Homo sapiens: one gene and its partner. The protein of the gene in region 2 purifies or fractionates together with the protein of the main gene of each other region. This does not show direct contact. Each region holds a gene or a part of one and is shown on either strand. Other genes may lie near its edges.

Evidence for each region. The genes of interacting proteins can lie anywhere in the genome.
Region 1: the proteins of ANKRD18A (region 2) and NEMF purify together in Homo sapiens (affinity purification with mass spectrometry; one large-scale study listed by BioGRID and IntAct). This does not show direct contact.

Annotation. Positions count from the first base shown.
Region 1 is NC_000014.9:49,832,014-49,835,826, forward strand, and holds part of NEMF (ribosome quality control complex subunit NEMF), read right to left. Parts: intron 2,437-3,813; coding exon 2,350-2,436; intron 1,484-2,349; coding exon 1,410-1,483; intron 265-1,409; coding exon 194-264; intron 114-193; coding exon 38-113; intron 1-37. UniProt on the Homo sapiens protein: Key component of the ribosome quality control complex (RQC), a ribosome-associated complex that mediates the extraction of incompletely synthesized nascent chains from stalled ribosomes as well as their ubiquitin-mediated proteasomal degradation.
Region 2 is NC_000009.12:38,613,786-38,617,598, forward strand, and holds part of ANKRD18A (ankyrin repeat domain-containing protein 18A), read right to left. Parts: intron 2,260-3,813; coding exon 2,145-2,259; intron 1,983-2,144; coding exon 1,809-1,982; intron 1-1,808.

The sequences.
Region 1 (3,813 bases), on a different chromosome or scaffold from region 2:
CTAACTAACTGGTAAAGGAACAGAACGGAAAACCCACCTTGTCAAATGATTCAAATTCTATATATGGACATTGTGAATGTTGAGAAAACAAGAAAGGATGAAATTCCTCATACCTGTAAAACATATTTATTATATCACATTCGAGAACATTAACAAACATCCAAAGCAAATTGACCCATGCCTATATGCTTACGTCAGTATGTCTTCAACTGGTTTATCTGCTTCCAAGCTTGGTTTTATTTCTCTTTTCTGAATGATATATCCCTACAAAAATGCAACATTAAAATCATTCCTATTCATAATTAACAAAGATTTACTTCTTTTTTTTTTTTTTGATACAGTCGCGCTCGCTCCATCACCCAGGCTGGAGTGCAGTGGTATATTCTCGGCTCACTGCAACCTCTGCCTCCCGGGTTCAAGCAATTCTCATGCCTCAGCCTCCCAAGTAGCTGGGATTACAGGTGTGTGCCACCATACCTGGCTAATTTTTGTATTTTTAGTAGAGACAGGGGTTTTGCCATGATGGCCAGGGTGGTGTCGAACTCTTGGTCTCAAGTGATCCGCCCACCTTGGCCTCCAAAAGTGCTGAGATCACAGGTGTGAGCCACTGCACCTAAAAATTTAGTTTCTGTGACTGATATTAATTTGCACCTAATCCAAAGGTTTACTTTCTATGACTGATATTAATTTTAATTTTCTATAAATAGTTATGCTTTGAAAAGGGAAGAAAAACACTCATAAGCTACTAGGTAATTCAAAAAATATTTAATGGTTGGGAGCTGTAAATCACAACATTTTTGAAAAGGGCTGACAAATGAAAATGTGCTTCTCTATCTGAAACTAAAGAAATAACTGTAAATTCCTCAACTTTTCTGAAGAGCCGATACTAACCTGACATTGTACTTTCTATAAAAGATAGGGAACAGAAAAAAACTTATAAACCAACAAAAACTTTTAAAACACTATCCTGGGCCGGGTGCAGTGGCCCATGTCTATAATCCCAGCACTTTGGGAGGCCAAGGCAGGCGGATCACTTGAGGTCAGGAGTTCGAGACCAGCCTGGCCAACACGGTGAAACCTCATCTCTACTGAAAATATAAAAACTGTCCAGGCATGGTGGCACGTGCCTGTAGTCCCAGCTACTCGGGAGGCTGAGACAGGAGAATCACTTCAACCAGGGAAGCAGAGGTTGCAATGAGCCAAGATCATGCCACTGCACTCCAGCCTGGGTAACAGAGCAAGACTGTCTCAAAAAACAAAACAAAAAAACTATCCTGGAATAAGCATATTACAGATAACAATTTTCCAAATTAAAATAAAATGTATATATAATGATCCTTTAATGAACGTTTAATTTCTGAAAACCCAAATAAATCACAACAATATATAGTAAGTATACATGGTGCTACCTTCCCACTGAAGTTGGATGTTGTTTTCATATAGTCTTCTGCTTTCTGCAGAGAAACAAGTACTTTTTCAATATCTAATGGTGGGGGAAAAAAAGGAAAAAAGGAGTGCCAATCAAGTGTCAATTAACCGTGGCTAAACAACTATGTAGAAAAACAGGAAAGTGCTTACAAAATAATGTTGCGTTCAAGAAAATTAGAGATAGTGATTTCATGTTTATAACCAGTATATGTGGATATATGGTTTCATTTTGAACAGCCTGTTGTCCAAGTAGCTTTTATTGAATCATCCACCTTTCCCTCCATGACCTGAAAGGAACTTTGTTCATAAACTAAATTCCCATATTATTTCAAATTATTTTTGGAATCTTTATGCTATTCCTTCTCCAAAAACTTACAGTTTTAATTACTATAGCTTCATATTTTAATCTGTGAAGGGTTACACAGACAGTAATAAATCATTACTAGTATTTTCCAGAGTTATCCTGAACATTTTCACATGCTTTTGCTCCATATAAACATCAGAGTCATTTTATAAAAACAAACAAAAACAAAACACCACCACCAGCACCTGTTGTCATTTTATGAGTGCACTGATTTAGTATATTGCAGAAACTAAAACATTCACTAAAATCTCATTCAATTTTTTTTTTTGAGAGTGGTGATACTTGTTTTTGTGGGGTTTTTTGAGATGGGGGTCTCACTCTGTTGCTCAGGCTGGAGTGCAGCTGTGCAGTCACCACCCACTGCAGCCTCAAACACCCAGGCTTAAGTGATCCTCCCACCTTAGCCTCCCAAAGTGCTGGGATTGCAGGCATGAGCCAGTGTGCCTGGTCAAATGTTTTTCATTCTAGAACCACCTGCTCCCTTATTACTTTCCCAGAAAAAATTTTCATAGTTTAAAAAAAATGAAATAAATGAAAAATGTACCATGCAGACATACCTTTAGTTTCAAGTTTTTCATCCACTTTGACATTACCCGAGAATCCATTTTCTAAAAGACAGTGTTCAATGAGAGCTGGTCCATAGGCTATAAATGCAGAGGATATTACTTTTAGTATTTTCCTATAAATTCTTTTTTGTTTTTGTTTTTTGAGATGGAGTTTTACCCGTCGCCCAGGCCGGAGTGCAATGGTGCAATCTTGGCTCACTGCAACCTCTGCCTCCCACCTCCTGCCTCAGCCTCCTGAGTAGCTGGGATCACAAGCACCCACCACCATGCCCAGCTAATTTTTGTATTTTTAGTAGGGACAAGGTTTCACCATGTTGTCCAGGCTGGTCTCGAACTCCTAACCTCAGGTGATCCACTCACCTCAACCTCCAAAAGTGCTCAGATTACAGGTGTGGGCCACCATGACCTAGCCTAAAATTTAACATTCAAAATATAGCACAAATTTATTTCCCAATATCAATGATCTACTCAATAACAGTGGCTGGTGAAAACAATAAGTTTACTTATTTTGAAGTGTTACTTAGAAATGACAATTCTAGTTCTTAGACTGGGTGCGGTGGCTCATGCCTATAATCCCGGCACTTTGGGAGGCCAAGGCAGGCAGATCACCTGAGGTCGGGAGTTGGAGACCAGCCTGACCAACATGGAGAAACCCCATCTCTACTAAGAATACAATAAATTAGCCAGGCGTGGTGGCACATGCCTGTAATCCCAGCTACTCAGGAGGCTGAGGCAGGAGAATCACTTGAACCCGGGAGGCGGAGGCTGTGGCGAGCCAAGATCGTGCCATTGCACTGCAGCCTGGGCAACAAGAGTGAAACTCCGTCCCCCGCCCCACCCCGCAACCAAAAAAAAAAAAAAAAATGACAATTCTAGTCCTTAAAGAAATTTGAAACTACAATTAACTTACAAAAGTCAGTGCAAGTTATAGGAATTTAATGGGCTTCAACCACAATGAGGATTTATCCCTGGAATGCAAGGTTGGTTTGGCAACCAAAAATTGGTTAATATAATACTCCATATTGATAAAATAAAGGAAAAGAGCCATATATCATTTCAATAGATGCAGAAAAAGCATTTGACAAAATTCAACACTAATTCCTAATAAAAACTCTCAATAAACTAGGAATAGAGGGAGCATTCTCAACCTTATAAGGACACCTATGAAAAACCTACAGCTAACATGATAATTACTGGTGAAGGACTGAATATTATCCCCCTAAGATCAGGAACAAGGAAAGAATATTCAGTCTCACACTGCTATTCAACATTGTACTGGAAGCTATAGCTAGCACAATAAGGCAAATTAATTAATAGCATTCAGATTCTAAAGGAAGAAGTAAAGCATCCTTATTCACAGATGACATGATCCTGTACCTTAAAAAATCCTAAGGAACCCACAAAAAAACCCTACTAGAATGAATAAACAAGTTTATCAGGTTTGCAGGATACAAA
Region 2 (3,813 bases):
TCAAGATTTGCTACCGATCTAATTGAGAAAATCTCACTTGTAATGAACATTTGCTGACACATAATCACTTGAATGGTGACAAAGGAACATGAAATTGTGAAAGGGTCAGTCTCTACTTATTGAAAGATTACCCACAAGTAAATTGCTAAAGACTGTCTGAATGGCAGTGAGTGATTCATGGTGGGAAGCAAAAAGTGTTATTCTGTAAGCTGAGCGATATTGCCAATGATATTCCCTTTCACTTCCCAGTCACAAATGTAGAGAAAGACAGATAAGTCAGTTTAATGTTATTGGAAAAGAAAACTTTGAAGAAAGTAGCACCTATCGAATGCCAACTCTTTTAGAGATTTCTTATGTCTTTGACATACAGGAATTTATATCCTGCACTTATCTATTCTGTGCTTCTTAATCAGGAGTGTATTCGAACACTGAGGTTTTTTTTTTTTTTTTTTTTTTTTGCTCTTGTTGTGGTAAGAGACAAGAGTCTTACTATGTATTTTTAGTAGAGACGGGGTTTCACCATGTTAGCCAGGATGGTCTCCATCTCCTGACCTCGTGATCTGCCCGCCTCAGGCTGGACTTAAACTCCTAGGCTCAAGCAATCCTCCCACCTCAGCCTCCTGAGTAGCTGGGACTACAGGAACATGCCACAGTGCATGGCTTCAAGAAAATATTTTTAACCATACATGTTCAGAACTTATTAGATCTATTACATCAAAATCCTCAGGGGAAAGCCTACACTTGTAGACTTTTAACAAAATTTCCCCAGGTCATTGTAATGCACAATTCTAGCTGAGAATTACTGCAGCAGACAATCACTTCAGTTTCATCTCTCACCCACATGGCCAATATCCTTTATCAGCTTGGGATGTGGCCAGAGAGGAGTATGAGATAGAGTTATGTATTAAAATTCCAGTTAATTTTCCTGGGTGTGGGTATATCAGGGACAAGTAAACTCAAAATCCCAGTTGATTTTGCTATTTATAAGCTGCTTATCTCCCACCTTCTCATCAAGATATTCTAGATTTGAAAGGAGAGTTTAGACTCTTATCTAAGTTGCTGTTTTTGCCGGGATGGGTAATAAGTCAGTTACTAATTTGTTCCACCCTTTGCTGAAGTGTTTCTCACTTCATCACCGTATATTCACTGCCAATCTGGTTTCCTCAGAGTCCTCTAAAAATTAATCTTTAGGCAAGTTTCGGTCACTCTTTTTACCAAACCAAAAATGATTACCCCAAAGCTGAAGAGCGCTTTGTCTCAATACATAAACTGGAAAAACAACAAACTAAAAAACAAAACCTCTTCTTGGCATTTTCCCTCATTACCTAATTTCCAAGTGACCTGCATGTTTTTGATTGCTCTCCTTTTCCCTTTCTATTTTTCCCTGTTAAACCTTGCCCATGAAAGATACATCCATTTTGTTAGAAAACCGTCAGCAGCAGCAAGACTTCCATTTATTGTAAGTTGCTTTAGTTTTGAGTTTTAAGATAAAGCCTATTTCCAGGGTAATTTTTTCCCTGTGCTGTTTTTACACTAATTAGAAAAAAAATACACCTGGGGTAGGAAACAAATACTTGAAAAGAAGAAGTTTTACCTTAACAAATTCACAAATACTTCCCATACGTGCACTAAAATAGCTGTGCCCTCTAATGCTTCTTTAAAAGTATCAATATTTAAAGTAAAATTTTAGACAATTATTTCAAGACATTTTCATTCAGGAATACTTGAGTTCCAAATATGAAAAATTGACTCTTAACTATGTCAATATTAAAACAAACATTTTGAAAAGAAAGTTGATTGATCTGTACCTTGTTTAGTGCTTCAATATTTGCATGGTGGGAAAGCAGTCTTTCTGCCAGTGAAGTCCCCTTATTATACACGGCATAATGGAGAGCAGTGTTGCCGTAGATATCCTCAATGTTTGGATTGGCGCCACATTCCAGGAGAACGATGGCACAAGCCTCTTCCTGGCTGTGTACAGCCTATTAGTGTTAGATAAAAAACTAGACTATAAATTCTAAGAATTCAAAATACATATTCCACAGGTTTCACCAACTAGCTATATTTAAATGAGACAAATTCATTTTAATTCTATGTATTTAAATCAAATCCATTTCATGCTGAAAGAGTTGGCTACTATATACCTTCATTAAAGGTGTCCTGTTTAGTCTGTCACAGATGTCGATCTGGCATCTTCTGTGCAGCAAGAGAGTGACCACTTGCACACGGCCATGGGCACAGGCCAAATGTAGAACAGTCCTAGGAGAGCGAGAGGGGTTTTCAGGAAATGTAGTGCAATATCTCAAAACCTACAATGGTCCATGTCATTGTAAACATTGAATGGCATTATTCCTCTGCCTTCAAAACAAATAATTTTCTTTTGAAGAAAGTACAATATTTATTAGCTCTTACTGCTCCCTACCTTAATGAAACAGCAGCCTATTTGGATAGAATGAGCTTGGTGTTTGGATTCAGCTTAACTAGGGCTTGAGTTCTACTTTGAACTCGGTCACGTACCAGCTATTGCTTAGCCTTTCTGTGCCTGAATTTCCTCATTAATAAAGATGACCACAGCAGCTAGCTCACAGGACACCACTGTGATGCTTAAATGAAAATCTATGTAAAGCATTTAGAACTGTTTCCAGAACAAGCAACAACTCAATAACTGTTAGACTTTTGTTTGTTGAGACACGGTCTTGCTCTGTTGCCCAGGCTGGAGTGCAATGGTGTATTTATACCTCACTGCAGCCTGGCACTTGTAGGCTCAAGCAAACCTCCTGCCCCAGCCTCCTGAATAGCTGGGACCACAGGAGTGCACCAGCATGATCAGCTAATTTTTAAATTTTTTTTTGTAGAGTAGGAATGTCACCTTGTTGCCCAGGCTGGTCTCAAACTCCTAGCATCATGGGAACTTCCCACCTCAGCCTTCCAAAGTTCTGGAATGACAGGTGTGAGCCATGCACTCAGCCAGATGTTATAATTATATTACTAGTATTTAACAAAAATATTTTAATTAAGTAAAATGATACAATTATTGCTATTTTGCAGGATGATTTAAAGATTAGGTCACATTTTAGCATATCTGATATTGGAGTGGTATTTATAATTCATAATTTTTATATGGTAGCATTTATAATTGGTAGCATTTAAAAATCATCTTATTAATATAGAAAATAGTAGGGTATCACACAATCCATGAGGTCTTACATTAAGTAGAATACTGTATACACAGCAGGTCTAGGGCAATTCTAGGAATCTAATTGACACTTAAATACATTTTAATTCCTCAAAGTACCATGGGGAAAGAGCACTGAAATAACAACATATTTTTTAAACAAATTACTTCTTACTTTGATTTTTAAAAATGGGAAGCTGGCCGGGCCCAGTGGCTCACGCCTGTGATCCCAGCACTTTGGGAGGCCGAGGCAGGTGGATCTCTAGGTCAGGAGTTCAGGACCAGCCTGGCCAACATAGTGAAACTCTGTCTCTACTAAAACTACAAAAATTAGCTGGGTGCGGTGGCAGGCACCTGTAATCCCAGCTACTCGGGAGGCTGAGGCAGGATAATCACTTGAACCTTGGCAGCAGAGGTTGCAGTGAGCTGAGATCACGCCACTGCACTCCAGCATAGGCGACAGAGTGAGACTCTGTCGCAAAACGAAAAAACAAACAAACAAACAAAAAGAAACGTGAAGCTAAAGGAAACTCATGATTGAGATGAACAGGTATGGCTCATTTTAGTCAACACTTAGATTTACAGAATATATGCAAATCAGACTTTCCAATGATTAATATTAGTATTTAAGACTGATA